2 separate regions of the Homo sapiens genome follow, and region 2 is linked to region 1. Evidence: fine-mapped expression QTL. A gene starts in region 1. The other region holds a variant in brackets. All regions are shown on one strand. Distances are from middle to middle.

Region 1 (9,914 bases):
GATTTTCCAAATCTGTGTTTTCACACTGTGTTCCAAGGAGCCCTGGGGTTCTGCAGAGGCATCCCAAAGTCGGCTTCAAAGATAGGAAGAAGGTTTCCCCAATGCTGCCTCAACCAGAGCAATTTGACATTTATCTAATTTGTATGTTAGATTACATGTAAGAACTTTTTCTTAAAGATTCCACTGAAAACATCAAAATGTGGACACCACTGTACTGTATATATAATTTCTTCAATAAAATGCAATGGAGCATTACTTCTCAAAAACTACCGGAGAAGTGGAGAATAGTCAGAGTGTTATATTCCCAAACACTAGCCTCACAGCATAAACTTAAATCCCTGTTTCAGGAAATGTGTAAATCACTCTATAATTACCTTGCAAATAGTTCAAAGCTCGGATATAAAATCTGCAAATATCCAGGCCCTGTTGCAGTAAGGATAAAAGATTTGTGTTCTATGATGATCAACTGTTTCCTTTAGTATATTTAGTCTGTCATAACAGGAATCAATTTCCACTCAGATGTTTCAGCTGAAGAGACTTTATTGCGGGAACTATTTATAGAAGTTAGGGTTAGGGTTGGATGAAAGGAAACAAGAAACATGGAGGTACCTAGGAGTTAGCACAGCTAGGCCTGAAGAAATAAGGGGAGGGAATCACGTTAGTAGAGCCCAGTGAAGGCTGGCACAGTGGAGCAGGGCTGCCTTGCAGGAGGAGCCTTCAAGGGACAAAGCCACCATCAGAACCCAGCCAGAAGCAGGAAAAGAGGTGGTGAAACATATCCTAACCTTTTTTCCTTTTCCATCCTCCAATCTACTGATGGTGTTACCCATTGGTCAAAACCAACTGGCATGAGACCCCAGCTGGAATAGTTTATGAAAAATTCCACCTTCTGAGGCACAGAGTCTAGCAGAGAAGAGCAGAAGATGGCACTAAAACACAACAAGTGGAGAATAACCAGCATATTTATAACAGAGAAATACAAGTCCCCCCTTACCTGTGGGGGATACGTTTCAAGACCCCTCATGGATATCTGAAACTGCAGATAGTACTGAACCCTTTATATACAATGTTTTTTCCTATACATATCTATCTATGATTAAGTTATTAATATAAATAAGGCACAATAAGAGATTAACAACAATTACTGCTAATAAAATAGAATAGCCAGGCACAGTGGCTCATGCCTGTAATCCCAGCTCTTTGGAAAACCGAGGCGGGAGGATTACTTGAGGCCAGGAGTTCCTGGGCAACAGAGTCAGACTCCATCTGCACAAAAAATTAAAAAATTAGCTGGGCGTAGTGATGCACACCTGCAGTCCCAGCTACTTGGGAGGCTGAGGCAGGAAGATCACTTGAGCCAAAGAGTTTGAGGCTGCAGTGAGCTATGATTGCACCTTTGCACTCCAGCCTGGGTGACAGAATGAAGCCCTGTCTCTAAAAATAAAACAGAAAAGTAAAATAAGAACAGTTATACAAATATATTTTAATAAAAGTTATACACTGTGGCCATAACTTTTGCAGTTTGAGGTACAACAGCAAAACTAACGTGAATTTCTTTTTCCTTCACAATTTCACAGGTAGAAGATTCATTCTTATCATAGATCTTAGCGACCTCAGCATATGGATTTTTTTCTTTCCTTACTAATTCAAAAACTTTTGGGTTTTCACTTAAAAGAAGCACTTTATGACTTTTCTTTGGCATACCCAAATTGCCAACATTACTACTCTTGTGTTTAGGGGCCATTATTAAGTTAAATAAGTGTTACTTGGACATAAGTACTGCAATACCTTGACAGTAGGTCTGACAACCAAGCCAACTACAAAGTGACTAACAGACAGGGGAGCATCTACAGTGTGGACACACTGAACAAGAGGGATGACCCATGGCCTGGACAGGATACAGCAGGATGGTGCACAATGTAAAACTTATGAATTGTTTTATTTCTGGAATTTTTCATTTAATATTTTCAGATCTTGGTTGATCATAACTGAAACCTTGGAAGCAAAACCACAGATAAGGGGAGACTAGTGTACTGGGAACTCAGATGTTCGATAATAGAGGAAACCTTAACTAAATAATGATATCAACCATTCTGCTATTAAATAAAAGTGCTCAGAAGAGCATTATGTAATCAGGGAGTACAGAAGAGAGAGCAACCAACTCCTTACAGAGATTGTAATAAAAGATTTTCCCAAATTAACAAATGAGGTGCTTTGTTGTCCCCCAAGCAAAGTTTCGTATATTTTTTAATTATATAAACAATACATTTCATTATGGGAAACATATACATAAAACAAAAAGCAAATATCTACAATTCCATCCCCTGCCCTAGACCACTATAAATATCTGTTTATATCTTTCCAGATTTTTTTCTATGCATTTATACACACATGATTATGTTGTTTTCGGGATCACACCATATTATTTTGTAAACTGTATTTTCCACTTAATAAATCATAAATACTATTTTATCCAATAGATACCATTCTGCAACATTTTAAAATTTTAACACTTTTTAAAAACTTGCCTCCGTGTATCTAGTTGTAACTAATTTTTATTCTCGGACATTTAGTTTGGTTTCTCTTTTGGCCATTACCAAATGTACTGTGATGAGACTTTACATTTTGGGGGTGATACAGTTTGGATGTCCCATTCAAATTTCATGTTGAGATATAATCTCCAGTGTTGGAGGTGGAGCCTGGTGGGAGGTGTTTGGATCATAGGGGCGGATCCCTCATGAATAGCTTGGGCCATCTCCTTGGTGATAAGTGTGCTCTCACTCTGAGCTCACAGGGATCTCATTGTTTATGTGGCTCCTCCCCCCCAACTCCTTCTTGCTCCCGTTCTCACCATGTGAGACATCTGCTCCCCATCACCTTCCAGCATGATTGGAAGCTTCCTGAGGCCCCCCCAGAAGCAGATGGCATTATGCTTCCTGTACAGCCTGCAGAACCATGAGCCAGTTAAACCTCTTTTCATATAAATTAACCAGCCTCAGGTATTTCTTTATAGTAATGCAAGAATGGCCTAACAAGGGTGGGGGGAGGGGGGGCAGTTTTTTTTTTTTTTAAACACACACACAAAAGAAAAGCCACAGAGACATATGTGGCCTTCAAAGCCCAAAGTATTTGCCATCTGACCTTTTATAGAAAATGTTTGTATTATAAATTTCCAGGAATGTAATTTTTAAGTCAAAGTGTGTGAACATTTTTGACGCTTTCACTACATTCTGTCAAATTGCTCTCCAGAATCGTTGAGCCAATTTACACCCTTCTCAGTAATGTATGAGTTTCTTTAGTTGCTATACATCCTACTCCAAGGGTCACTGGCCCAAATTACTAGCTCTGAGTATTATTTTATTCTCAATTTGATGGTGCATTATCGTTTTAAGTTTTTACTTCTCTTAAAAATGTTTGGCCATTTACATTTTTCTCTCATGATGACGAATTTGCATTTTGCTCATTTTTAGTAGGCTATTTTTTCTTTCTAAGTTCTCTTTAATGTTATGCTTATCTGTCATGTATATTGCAAATTTTTTGTAATTTTTACTTGTTTTTAAATTTTATTCTATGGGGTTTTTTTTTGGATAAAAGAAGTTAAAAGTTCAACAGTCAGATCTGTCACTTTTCCTTTGTAATTTCAGCCGTTGTTTCATGCTTAGTTTGAGATTAAAAGCAATTCACTTGTATTTTCTCCTTGCCCTTTTAAGACTTAAAAACATTTAAATCTTTTAATCCTGTTCAAATTTAGTGTCTGGGAAACATTTTAGAAGGATGAATAGGTAATATTATGTTAGTCCTGGAGTCAGATTGCTGGGTTCAAATTTAGCCTCACCAAATACTACATATTTCTGCAAATCACTTAAACTCTTTAAGTCTTAGTTTTCTTGTTTATAAAATGGAGATAACAGTAACATTTACCATAGGGTTGATGTAAGAATTAACAGTTATAAATCACAGAAAGTACTTAGCACAGTGTCATTAGCTATTATTATAGCAGCAAGAGAATACTCTCCCAGGCAAAAGCAATAACATGTATAAAGGTGCAAATGTATGAAATCTGTTTGCATATTCAGGGAACTAGATGTGGTGTAGTAAAATGAGGTGTAATATTCAAGGGGCAGAGTTGACAGATGCGAGGGGTGATGGGTCTTGAATGAGTTGTTCAGGAACTTGCTCTTGATATTATCAGAGATTGGGAGCCAATGAAAGCTTTTAAGCAAGCAAGAAACCCTGCAGATGTGTGGTAGCAAAGTGGAAAATGGACTAGATTCCGCCAGGTGCAGTGGCTCACGCCTGGAATCCTAGCACTTTGGGAGGCTGAGCTGGGCGGATCCCCTGAGGTCAGGAGTTCGAGACCAGCCTGGCCAACATGGTGAAACCTCGTCTCTACTAAAAATACAAAATTAGCTGGGCATAGTGGCAGTCACTTGTAATCCCAGTTACTAGGGAGGCTGAGGTGGGAGAATCGCTTGAACGAAGGAGGCAGAGGTTGCAGTGAGCCAAGATCATGCCACTGCACTCCAGCCTGGGCGACAGAGTGAGACTCTATCTTAAAAATAAAAAAAAAAGAAAAGAAAAGAAAAGAAAAATGGACTAGATTTATATCCCTTGCTCCACCCTGTCTTCCCCAAATTTAAATTCCTGCTTCCTAGAGGCAAATTCTTTCACCTTCTATGTCTCTGGTATTTATCTCCTTACTTTTAAGAATCATGTTTAAATTGTTTCTTGATTTTGCCATCATAGATATGATTATGAGGCTAATTAAACAGTAATCCTAACCGCTCTGAGAATGGACCTAAGAAATGAATGTGAGAAAGAAAGTAGAAGCAGCCCACTTGCTAGTGAGTGAAAGCCAGGGAAGGGTGGGGGGATGCGGGGAGAAATTGTCTCAAGTTGGAGAACCCAGGTGCAGGCTGGGAGCAGTACCATGAATTCCATTCAAGAAGCCAAACGTTTTAAGCACCATTTCCTGGAGTTTGCCAAGTTGAGTATTGACCCAGCCTCCTGTCTTGTTGGTTCCTCACTGCTGAAGAAGACCAAGTGTTGACAACTCAGTGAGGCAGTCTCAGCTGGAGTGGAAAAATGTAGCTAAGAAAACGTGCCAGACAAAGCTTTAAGCAGAGCTTCCCAACTGGATGCCGTGAAACGAATGACAGGGATGCAGATACAGCATGGGTCTTCCCAGCCCTCCAAGTGCAAGGGCTTCTGCAGGAAGCCTTCTGCAGGAGCAGCCTCTTCTGTTTACCCCCATTTTGACCCTTGTAATATCATCCTTTCCTACCTGTGCCAAGAAGTGAAAAGGTGTGTGAAGCGCCGCTTTAGAAGGCCCAGTACATTCACAAACATCAGCTTCTGGGCGAGGCTGCTTGGCCTCTTCTATTCAAAACTTTGTGTTGCCCTTTTAAGGTTTCTATTCCCCCCACCCCCACCCCGCCCACCAACACCCATTCCTACCTAGGTTCAACCCAAACCATCCTTAAGGTACACTGAGTATCACAGCACCAAAGGCTGGAGAGAGATAAGTTCCCCACCCTTGATGCGCTTCCTGTCCAGGTGGCCCGAGGCCCACTCCTTAAGAGGCAAGGCCCAGAGACACTGCTGTGTCTTGAGGAACATCCAGTACACCTGACATTTCCATTAGAACAGTGGGACCCGGATACCACTGGCAGGAAGTCCATCTTCACAGCTGCCAACCCATCTGTCAAACCCGCAGTCCCCTATGAGAGTACAGATGAATGGAGGAGGAAGATTTAAAAGTGAATTCGTGGGCGGCGACAAGGAAACAGCAGCCGTGGCCAAGCTGACCCCAGAGCCCTTCCCTTCCTGGCCCTCCCTCTGAATCATCGCGCTCCACTTGTGACGTCGCGGACGCCCGGCTCGGGCAGGCGTGGGGGGCCCGCGCGTCCCGGGAGCCCCGAGGCGGCAGCGCGCGTTTCCACGCCGCGGTCCCGCGGGAAAGCCGGGGGCGGCGGCCTGGCTGAGGCCAAGCTCGGATCCGGTGCCGAGCCAAGCGGGGCCGTGCGTCGCCGGGGCTTCGCCTTCGCTCGCGTGACCTCCGCCGTCCTCCCCAACCCTCGTCCTCTGGCCGCGCCTGCGGCCGCACGCCCAGCGCCCCTCGCCTAACCTCGCGCCCGGGCCGCGCCTCCTCCTCCTCCTGCTCCCCGCCGCTTCCGTTTCTCGAGGGAAAGGCTGCTGCCTCCTGCTCTGTCCTCATCCCCGGCTTAGGTAACACGTTTTCCTCCTTACGACACCCACCACAGGGTCCCCGCGCCGCTGCCCCTCCTCCTTGGATCTGGGGCCCGGGCTGGTGAGCGGCGCGCGCCGTCGCCTCTCCGCGGGTAGGTGAGTCGATGGCGCCGGGAGGGTTCCTCGCCTCTGCGCGCCGGCCTGCGAGGTCCCTGCCCCGGCAGCGAGGCCGCCCCCGGCCGGGCCCGGCCAGGCATGCCCGGCATCGCCGCTGCAGCCAGCGCGGAGGGGAGCTCGTGAGTCCCGCGGCGCCCTTGGCCCTGCCCGAGCGGCCCGATGGGGTTGGGGGGCGGGAAGAAAGGGTGGCAAACAACGATTTTAAAAATCCAGTCATTAGTATTTGTAGGACGAAGAAGCTGATCTGACAGTTGTCCAGAGCAGTGGCCCAGCTGCAACAGGTAGATGGCGCAGCTGTCAGTGACCCCTTGGTCTCAGCCTTGGCTTTGAGAGATGCATCTGAGTGTCCCTAGCTGCCAGCTACCTCCAGTGACCTACTTGATGAGTGTGAAATAAATATGATGGGACTATATTTAGAAAAATCTTTACTTCCTTGCTGTTAATTCTCTCTGCATTTTGAAAGGTGGTTTTGTGAGGTGTGCATAATTAGTTGGTGTGTCCAGAGTGGTAGCTGGAAAAAAATATTTAACCTGGGTTTGGCCCTATCATGTAGACGGTTAGGCGCAAAGAGTGTGAAAGGAAACGCTTACTTTAGTACATCTGTGAAAAACACTTATAAGAAACCACGGCTTGTTTTTTGGAGATTTCTCATTTTAAAGGTATTTTTAAAGTGTTGAATAAGCAGAAGTTTGCCCACTGTATGATGGTGTTCACTTCAAAAGAACAGTGGGTTAAAAGTATGGACAGACCACTTAAGTGGATCCCATCTGTTGAGTAAAAGATTTTTTAGCCCTTTTACACTGATTCCTAGCTTTGAAGCCAGAAAAGTTGATAAGGATCAGCCCTGCTCAACTTGATAATAGTATAAGGATGAAAGTAATCCACTGAACTACTCTTGATTGGTGAATTAGCTAAGTGATCTCATTCTTACCTTTTAAAATAGAGAACATAAGGGAAAAAATAAAGGCAATGGAAGAATTCATTTTTTCAATACAGATATTTGTTTCCATTCTTATGTAGAGCCTACTTTATTTTTAAGTTTTTATGGATTTTTATACTACTTTTGAAGTCAGCTTAGTCATGAAGAGAATTATGTCAAATACATAGAGTTACACTGTACTTTTTGTGTAGAATAAGCTACCACTTTTCAAGCTTTTGGACTAAACCACCGCTTGCTTGGAAATTGCAGCTTTGACTAATGCCCTTTAAAATGATATACCTTATTATAGATTTAAATTATAGCTTTCCTTGTTATAGTCCTGAAAAAAATGAAAAGATAATTTCTTGTTTGACATAGAAGGCCTGTGAGACAAAAGTTATAAAGGTTATTATATATTTATTTTGCTTTTTAATTCTGTCTCTAATAACAGTTAGAAAATGTCTCATTCTATTTCATGTTATACAGAAATTGCTTAAAAGATAATTATGTTATATAAAGTGATCAATGAAAACAAACGTCATCTTCATTTTTTAAAGGTGAGGATGGTGTATATAAGCACTTTTTCCCGATGTGAGTCCTTATGAATGTTCTTGTTAAAATACTTTGAATCTTGTAATGAAGTTAATAAAACTATGTTAATGTGTTTGGCTGAGAGCTTAGAAATAAAGGCTCTGGCTGGCGTGGTGGCTCACGCCTGTTATCCCTGCACTTTGGGAGGCCAAGGCAGGTGGATCACTTGAGGTTAGGAGTTCGAGACCAGCCTGGCCAACATGGTGAAACCCCGTCTCTAGTAAAAATACAAAAATTAGCCAGGCGTGGTAGCAAGCACCTGTAGTCCCAGCTATTCAGGAGGCTGAGGCTGGAGGATCCCTGGAACCTAGGAATCAGAGGTTGCAGTGAGCCCAGATCGCGCCACTGCACTCCAGCCTGGGCGACAAAGCAAGACTTCATCTCAAAAAATAAAAATTAAGTTAAAATTAAAAAAATAAAAGTTCTGCTTCCCGTCTCCTGTGATTGATGTTGGGTACTGTTTCTCAAACTTGTCTGATTGTAAAATTCCTCAGGGTAGTAGGCAAGTCGGGGAGTGGGTAGAGTATAATAGTGGTTTAAAAGATTCCCAGATTGCAACTTGAGACTTCCTGGATCAGAATTTCTAAGAGAAAGGAGATATTTCAAATAGACAAAAATGATAAAATTTTAAAATAGTCAACAACAACAAAAAAGGTGAGTTTGGGAAATGCAGGTGGGAAATGACTATTGTTGGAATGAATAGTTGATAAAACTTATTAGGACTCCTGTACATAAAATGTTCATATATGGAAACTGATTTTATTAATATGATGAGGCCACTCATTTAGGAAATCTGAAACTTTTATATTTTTTTCTGGTCAAGCTTCTGCTGATCAAATTTAGCAAACATATTTTTGCATGTTTAGTCTTTTTTATGTGGTATGTAATGTTAATTCAATTTCTTGAATGTGATAAGAGCATTTTATTAATGGATGACTAATGCAGATTACTGTAACTAGTAATCCACAGCAAAATATTGTACCTAATAATTTCTCTTTCTTTTTTTTCTTTTTTTCTTGAGAAAAGGTCACACTCTGTCATCCAGGCTGGAGTACAGTGGTGTGATCATGGCTTATGCAGTCTCCACCTCTCAGGCTCAAGGAATCCTCCCACCCCAGCCTCCCGAGTGTCTGGGACTACAGGCACGTGCCACCATCCCAGCTAATTTTTAAAATTGTAGAGATGGGGTCCCACTATGTTGCCCAGGTTGGTCTCAAACTCCTGGGCTCATGACATCCTCCTGCCTCAGCCTCCCAAAATGCTGGGACTACAGGTGTGAGCTGCTGCACCCAGCCTAATTTCTTTCATATTATAGATTTATTTGTTACCTCTTCCATGTGCCTGATTAAATAATTATAGGCAAGACAGGCATGCAAATTTGAATACCTTATTAGTAGCTTTTTTTTTTTTTTTTTTTTTTGAGACAGAGCCTCACTCTGTTGCCCAGGCTAGAGTGCAGTGGTGTGATCTCGGCTCACAGCAACCTCTGCCTCCCAGGTTCAAGCGATTCTCCTGCCTCAGCCTCCCGAGTAGCTGGGATTACAGGTGCCCGCTACCACACCAGGCTAATTTTTTGTATTTTTAGTAGAGATGGGGTTTCACAGTGTTAGCCAGGATGGTCTCGATCTCCTGACCTCGTGATCCACCCGCCTTGGCCTCCCAAAGTGCTGGGATTACAGGCGTGAGCCACCACACCTGGCTCCTTATTTGTAGCTTTTTAAAAAATGACTCTCAACCCCATTCAAAAAAGAAAAAAAAATTTATTTGGCCCTAAAACTTGGTCAGTTATATATAAAAAAATTAAAGAAATAGAATATTAAATACCTATAAAATAATTTGACAAGATGAGTTACCATAATGGAAAATGTCAGAATTTATTTTCCTTTTCCTTCTTCCTCTTTACATTGCTTTTCTTTCTCCTTTTTTGGGGGGGGATGGAGAGTGTGTGTTATTTGCTCATTTGTTTTTATTTTTAACCAACTAAATATTTAAAATATAGTAAATTATCCATGTTTAAATTAATTTAAATATTTGCCAA
Region 2 (8,000 bases), 24 kb after region 1:
ATTTGAATGTTAAGGTTCATTCAATTTCTACCTCAGAATATCATGCCATTTAACTTAAGTAGAGAGATGTGGTATCTTAGAATAATTTAGCAAGTCCATGTATCATTTTAGATATAAATCTGTGGCATTTAAGTAACTTATAACTCAAGCTTTGGGAAAATTGCATGGCCCTTTGGGAATCTAATGTAAGTTATTAATGCCCCAAAGATGCCCATCTACAAAATTATGCAGACAATTTCAGATCCTAGGTTTAAACCCATCTGTGCGCTCTTGGGGGAAGTCCATGGACCTTGGCTAAAAGTACAGAGGTGGCCATGGTTCTGAAATACTGTGTGATCTTGAGCAAATTAACTCATCATTTCTCTAAGTCTCAGAACCTCTGTGAAGTACTTGGATTAACTAAAAGATTCCTTTTAGTACTAAGTTTTTTGGTTTGTTTGTTTGTTTTTGAGACAGAGTTGCTCTGTTGCCCAGGCTGGAGTGCAGTGGCACAATCTCGGTTCACTGCAACCTCCACCTCCTGGATTCAAGCCATTCTCCTGCCTCATCCTCCTGAGTGGCTGGGATTACAAGCATGTGCCACCACACCTGGCTAATTTTTGTATTTTTAGTTAGAGATGGGATTTCACCATGTTGGCCAGGCTGGTCTCAAACTCCTGACCTCAGGTAATCTGATTTCTTTCAGAGAAACAATTTTTTTTTTTAGTTTGTTTGGATTTAATAGTAGAAGAATAAAATAGTGAACATTAAATACTGATCATGTGACAAATACTTATATATCTAGAAACACAATTACAAAGAAAAAATGAGTTTCTAGATTAACTCTGAAAATTTTTTAGTCTCCTTCATGCACCACATATTAAGATGCAGTTAGTTCTATGTTAGTAATACGGGAAAGAAATCTTTTAAACCTCTGAAGGTTAAAAATAACACTTATGCCTGACTTATAAGCAATCTTACATTTAAAAATCTACGCTTGACTACTTCACAAACAGCTATTTTAATACATCATTTGTCTAGAATTATAGAGGCAAAAGGCATAGCCACATCCATTTTCCTGTTTGTTAAAAGGGCAGAGAAATGTGGAGAGAGGAAGAGGAGAGATGGTGATGATGATATTGCAGGCAAGACCAGATCATAGGAAGGGATTTAGATTTCCCTCTCAGTGGGATGGGAGGTCTCTGGCAAATTTCAAGCAAAGGAGTGATATAATTTCTTCCTTTGAATGATCCCATAAGTTTTACTGAGCCCAGAGTAGGTGTGCAGTAAGTAGCCATTATTAGCTTTATTATTCCCCAACTTTAACAGTCTAATTTACTTTGAATTAAGTTAATTTAACTAAATTTGACTGTTTCTTGCTGATTCAGTCATCACTGTAATAGATGTATATTGTGCTTCCCACACTTTACTGGTCATGTAATCGCCTCAGGATCTTGGTTAAAATTCAGTAGGTCGGCCGGGCGCGGTGGCTCACGCCTGTAATCCCAGCACTTTGGGAGGCCAGGGCGGGTGGATCACAAGGTCAGGAAATTGAGTCCATCCTGGCTAACACGGTGAAACCCCGTCTCTACTTAAAAAATACAAAAAAATTAGCCGGGCGTGGTGGCGGGCGCCTGTAGTCCCAGATACTCAGGAGGCTGAGGCAGGAGAATGGCGTGAACCCGGGAGGCGGAGCTTGCAGTGAGCGGAGATCGCACCACTGCACTCCAGCTTGGGTGACAGAGCAAGACTCCGTCTCAAAAAAAAAAAAAATTTCAGTAGGTCTGGGGTGGCATCTGAGGTTCTGATTTTTTTTTTTTTTTTGTTAGATGGAGTCTCCCTCTGTTGCCCAGGCTGGAGTGCAGTGGCACAATCTTGGCTCACTGCAGCCTCCGCCTCCCAAATTCAAGCGATTCTCCTGCCTCAGCCTCCCAAGTAGCTGGGATTACAGACATGCTAAGCTACCTGCCACCACGCCTAGCTAATTTTTTTATACTTTTATTAGAGACAGGGGTTTCACTATGTTGACCAGGGTGGTCTTGAATTCCTGACCTCAAGTGATCTGCTTACCTCAGCCTCCTAAAGTACTGGGATTACAGGCATGAGCCACCACGCTCAGCCTAAGGTTCTGACTTTCTAATAAGCTCCCAGCTGATATAGACACTGCTGGTCCTTGGAATAAGAAGGGTAGAAGTAGCTACCTAGATAGCTACTAGATAGCTAGGAGTATCTAAAACGTTCCAAAGTGCCATGTTTTCTTAGTTTTTAAGATTTTTTTTCCTCCACTGCTGTCACTTCTTGTTGCTATTAACTTGCCTATTTTTTACCAGCCTCTTCCCTCACTTCTGTCAAGGGCTGAAACCAGATTAATCAAGGGTCTAAGAAGCATGTTTAAAGCGATGGTAAAGCACCTGGCCTCGGTAACTTATCGTTTCATTTGAAGAAGCAGCTTTGCTTATGTTCTGGTTCTCAATGGGCTCCACAGAGGAGAGCTATTTATATGTATACCATTTAGAGGCATAAAGTTTTACTACATTTAAAGATTGGTATATACCATTTTATGTTACTTAGCATAAACAATTTTAAGTTAAAAGCAATATCATATAAGGAGGTAGAAGCACTTCGGTGTGTTGAAAAACCTCCATTCTTTTCAATAACATATTCAGACACGGACAGGGTGACTTAAGTATATAAAAAGTCAAAAGACAAATTTTAAAAAGATTAATGATCAGGAATTCAGGAATTGTTAACTGGCCTATGTATCCCTTAACTGGGATACAAAATTGTGCCCACATGGGCATTTTTCTAGGGAGGTCTTTTGATTCCTGAAACCCATCTCTTACTATTCAGGTTAAGTGCCTGGGTAGCCACTGAGCATCTGACTTGATGAAGCCCCACCAGGTGATTCTGGCAGTCAGCCAGGCATAGGAACTGCTGGGATGGATATATTGCCCTCAATCTAAGTGCACAGCTTTTGATTCACTCTCTCACTGGCTCACTCTCTCTCTGTCTCTCTTGCTTGCTCTCTCGCTCTCTCTGTCTCAATCTTTGTCTCATTCTCTCGCTGTCTCTCTCGCTCTCTGTCTCTCTTGCTCTGTCTCTCTCTGTGTCTCTTGCTCTGTCTCGCTCTCTTGCTCTGTCTCACTGTCTCTCGCTCACTGTCTGTCTCACTCTTTTGCTCTCTCTCGCTCTCTCGCTCTGTCTCGCTCTCTCTCGCTCTCTCGCTCTGTCTCGCTCTCTCTCGCTCGCTCTCTGTCTCACTCTTTTGCTCTCTCTGTCTCTCTGTCTCTTTCACTCTGTCTCTCTCAGTCTCTCCCTGAATCTCTCGCTCTCTGTCTCGCTCTGTCTCTCTTGCTCTCTCTCGCTCTTTCGCTGTCTCTCTCGCTCTTTGTCTCTTGCTCTCTGTCTCTTGCTCTGTCTCGCTCTCTCGCTCTGTCTCTCTCTTGCTTGCTCTCTGTCTCACTCTTTCCCTCTGTCTCTTTCACTCTTCCTGTCTCTCTCTCGCTCTCTGTCTCTCTCGCTCTGTCTCACTCTCTCTGTCTCACTCTCTCGCTCTGTCTCTCTCTTGCTTGCTCTGTCTCACTCTTTTGCTCTGTCTCTTTCACTCTCCCTGTCTGTCTCTCTTGCTCTCACTCTGTCTCACTCTGTCTCACTCTGTCTCACTCTCTCTGTCTTGCTCTCTCTGTCTCTCGCTCTTTTGCTGTGTCTCTCGCTCTCTCTGTGTGTCTCTCTCTCACTCTCTTGCTCTGTCTCTCTCGCTCTTTCGCTCTGTCTCGCTCTCTGTGTCTCTCGCTCTCTCTCTGTCTCTCTCTCTCGCTCTCTCTGTCTCTCTCACTCTTTAGCTCTCTCTCTCTGTTCTTTCTCCACTGAAACTCTTGAAATGTAATGGCTTATCGTGTGGCTTTACCCTAGGGGAAAAGATTACCTTGAGGTTGTGTTCAACAGAGGAGGAAACAGCAGAGCTTCTTAGCAAAGTCCTCAATGGTAACAAGGT[G/A]GCATCTGAAGCATTAGCCAGGGTTGTTCATCAGGATGTTGCCTTTACTGACCCAACTCTGGATTCCACAGAGATCAATGTTCCACAGGACATTTTGGGAATTTGGGTGGACCCCATAGGTAAGTATAGGAAAGTATGTTTGTTCTTATTTGCAATCTTTTTTTTGGTGGTGGGGTTGGGGATGGGTGTTGGAAAAATAAAAATTATTGAGTGTAGTTTAACTCTGCTAGAAGTTTTTAAAATTTTAAAGTTTTAAAACAATGAGAGTTGAGGTGTATGTGTCATGTGTTCTGTATATATACATATATATTATAGCCGTGTGTATATATATACATATCTATAACAGGTGTGTGTATATACACACACATACATACAGGCACACATGCAAAGATGAATTAACTTCTCTTCAAAAGACTTCAGGGACCAGACTGGTAAGTAAATGAGAGAATGAAGTGAGAGCAGTTATGACCAATTGAGCACACATACCATTTAAAGAGCACTTAGCTTTAGCAGATTGTTACCATATGGGAGTACAGGCCAGCTCTTCAGATTTTTAAAGAGAAACCAAAATCCAAGGTTTTCAGCGATATATCCCAATTTCTAACCGTTAGCTACTAATTCAGTTAAAGAAGGAAACAATCAAAAAAACACAGTACAGGTCAAGCAAAAAGCTGAATGTGACGCATGAGCAGTTTGTGAGCCCTGCATGAGCTCTACATTTTTTTTGGTCATGATTGTGATAGAACCATAATGTATAATCCATTGTTTTGAAAATGTAACCCTTTTTTTTGAGACAGAGTCTCGTGTTGCACACAGGCTGGAGTGCAGTGGCACAGTCAGAACTCACTCACTGCAGCCTTGTCCTCCTGAGCTCAAGCAATCCTCCTATCTCAGCTTCCCAAGTAGCTGGGACCCAAGTAGGTGGCAGAGTTGCATGCCACCTCACTAGGCTAATTTTTTATATTGTTTTTAGAGAAGGGGTTTTTACCATGTTTCCCAGGCTGGTCTCGAACTCCTGGGTTCAAGCGATCTGCCTGCCTTGGCCTCCTAAAGTGCTAGGATGATTACAGGCATGACCTACCATGCCCAGCCAGCCTTTATCTTCAATGATGCTATTAATACAAGTTCTAGGTAATAATTTTAATAAGCTCCCCCTTCCTTTTTTTTCTTCCCCACCCAACACAATGGGACCATTCAAGGACCAGGCAAACTCCTCTCTGGGCCCTTCCCATCCTACAAGTGCATTCACAGGATGATACTGAAATGGGTTTAATCTTCAGATAATTATATCACATTCAGCCAGTGGATGATATATGGAAACTAAAAACCTTTCCCCAAATCTTTGATCATTTAAGGGTAAATTGGCATCAGTTATAGTTTCTGAGGGACAGAGATCTCCTGTTTCTTGGTTCCACCCTGAATTGATTCTGTTTTTGAGCTCTTTGAGTCTTTTGCCAGGCACATCCTTAGCCGTGTGTTGACTCCCTAGACGTCAGCAGTCAGCTGCTGGCATGTACATCTCTTAAGGGGAAACCTAGTTTCTCTGCCTCTGTTTCATAGGAGCTCCGTTAATTTCTTTTTTTGGTGCCACCATCATTGTCTCTTTCTTCCTTCTAACTTGAGGGACCAAATAATAATAGTAAAAGATAATATTACCTGTGACCTATTACAGGAGGGGGGCTTTTCTTTTTTTCTTTTCCTTTTTAAAATGTTTGTGGGTACATAATAGGTGTATATATTTATGGGGTAGATGAGATGTTTTGACACAGGCACACAATGTGAGATAAGCACATCATAGAGAATGGGGTATCCATCCCTTTGAGCATTTATCCTTTGAGTAATAAACAATCTAGTTACACTCTTTATTTTAAAATGTACAGTTAAGTTCTTATTGATTATAGTTACCCTATTGTGCTATCAAATAGTAGGTCTTTTTTTTTCACCCATTGGAAGGAGGCTTTTCCATCTCACATTGTACTAGTCCTCTGATTAGTAGTATTTCTAAAATAATCCCACCAATTATTCTGGTTATTACTTTTTCAATGCTTTTGATAAGTAACAAATATTTGAATGCCTGTTATATACAAATTGCTATGCCACAGGAACTATAGACACATCCTCTCCCTTCAAGAGTTCTCACAGTCAGGAAAATGAAACACAAGCAATTTAAAAGTAAAGTACAAGAGGCCAAATAACAATTCAATACAGTGACATCCAAAGGTAAAAAATTATTGGTTACCAAATCAGTAGAAGAGAGAAGTCATATGGAACAGAGTCTTCTAAATGATCTTTACCTGAATCCAAACACATTTGTTTCCTTTTTCAGATTCAACTTATCAGTATATAAAAGGTTCTGCTGACATTAAATCCAACCAGGGAATCTTCCCCTGTGGACTTCAGTGTGTCACCATTTTAATTGGTGTCTATGACATACAGACAGGGGTTCCCCTGATGGGAGTCATCAATCAACCTTTTGTGTCACGAGATCCAAACACCCTCAGGTAAAAGGCAAATATTTTTGGTATATTATGGTTGTTAGAACTTACGACCTCAGCTTTGCTTGTTGTTAGGATTATCACTATATGACATTCCCATGACTTAACACATGGGAGTGTTGCCATTGAAAGTCTGCGTATTTGAATTAAAGTTCTATTTTCAATCTTGGATTTGCGTAATTTTATTTCAGGCCAAGTGCATGCTGGTAGAAATTTTAAAATTAATACTATCCTGTAGAAATCATAGTTTTACATTTGGAATATAGTAATCCTGTTCCCTGTTTCTAGAATCCACTCAAAACCAGATAAGTAGAGTGGTGGTAACACTGCCTTCCAATACATTGGGAATAAGACAGCTGCCATCGCTGTATAGCCAGTTGAACTTTGGTATAATTTTAGAAGTTCAAAACAAAATGTGAAAATTATCCAATGAAAAGATTGGTAGGCATGGCCAGGATCAGAACCTAACTCACACTCCCTTTCTGCCTCCTCCCTTCCACTCTTCCATGCACTCTTAAACAGAGCGTAGAAAGTGGCCAGGACTCAGCTGCCTCTGATCCATGGCCTGTGCTTTGGGGTTGACTCCAGGGCATGGCAAAGTCCAGGTGGAACAAGCAGTTCAGCTTTTTATTGAAATAGGTCATATTTTTTCACTTATATAGGATTACATATTTTTATTGAACCTGAGCTGCTTCAAGTAACAATCATTTGCTCTTTAATAGTCATAAGTTTATACCTCTTAAGTTTTAATATTTTCCCCCTACCCCCACCATCTTCCAAACTAAAAATAGGTTTCTGCTATCTTTAAAAGGTTAATAAGAAATTAAAAAGAATTGGAACAATATGCAGACATAATCATGGCCTAGAAATGGAGGTGGTCAACAAAATAGTTTATGGCACAGATTCAGAGTGAGACTTTGTGGGTTTGAATGCAGATTCTACCACTTTCTAGCTGAGTGGGCCTCAGCAAGCTACTTACTTTCTCTAAGCCTGTTTCCTTATCTGTAAATATGTAACAACATAGACAGTAAGTTAAGCATTGATAAAGGGAAGGTGCTATAATTATTGTGGTTGCCAAAACTAATAACATTGAGTCCATCTTTCTTTGTGTTGGAAGCCAACGTGAAACTAGTGAATAAGAGAATGAAAAGGAGTTACCAAATAAAGAAAAACTTGTTATAGGGATTGTAGAATATTTGCAGATCAAAAAGAGATATCACTTTTCTATTCCTTTTTCCCTACTAAACTTTAAATACTAAAAGTTGTAATGAAATTTTGCAATGGTTCTGGAAGCTGGAAACCCCATAAATGTTTTAGTGTTGTCCTAGATTGATGTGATAATGCCATAAAATTGAAAGCATTTCTAATTGCAACAACTCAGGCAGCTGCATGCATATAAGTAACTTTCTGAAATAAACTAGCTACCTGATATCTATTCCTAGACTTAAAGGTGTTAAGATTCACCATGTTATGATGAATTGTGTATTTCTTCGTATCATTAAGTTTGAAAGTGACATGAGTAATGAAAAACA

Alleles and levels. Alleles are on the strand shown, and positions count from the first base shown. SD is a standard deviation of normalised expression in the study named.
With allele A in place of G in region 2, the expression in cerebellar hemisphere of the gene that starts at base 5,856 in region 1 is higher (large effect, 0.87 SD a copy in GTEx).

Evidence for each region.
Region 2: its variant is fine-mapped to the expression of INPP1 in cerebellar hemisphere (GTEx, PIP 0.99). The same link has a PIP of 0.9 or more in sigmoid colon and tibial nerve.

What each region holds. Positions count from the first base shown.
Region 1 is chr2:190,337,734-190,347,647 of GRCh38, forward strand. It overlaps INPP1 (inositol polyphosphate-1-phosphatase), which reads left to right and starts at 5,856. Exons shown (of 7, transcript NM_001128928.2): 1 at 5,856-6,228. It overlaps LOC124906109 (serine/arginine repetitive matrix protein 1), which reads right to left and starts at 7,316. Exons shown (of 1, transcript XM_047446773.1): 1 at 523-7,316. The coding sequence starts at 6,583. The coding sequence ends at 5,705. RefSeq lists silencers at 5,842-6,151, 6,222-6,551.
Region 2 is chr2:190,362,804-190,370,803 of GRCh38, forward strand. INPP1 (inositol polyphosphate-1-phosphatase) reads left to right here. Exons shown (of 7, transcript NM_001128928.2): 5 at 3,892-4,092; 6 at 6,300-6,474. Among named protein-coding and RNA genes, the nearest start is that of INPP1, 23 kb to the left of the region's middle. The variant G/A (reference allele first, on the strand shown) is at 3,974.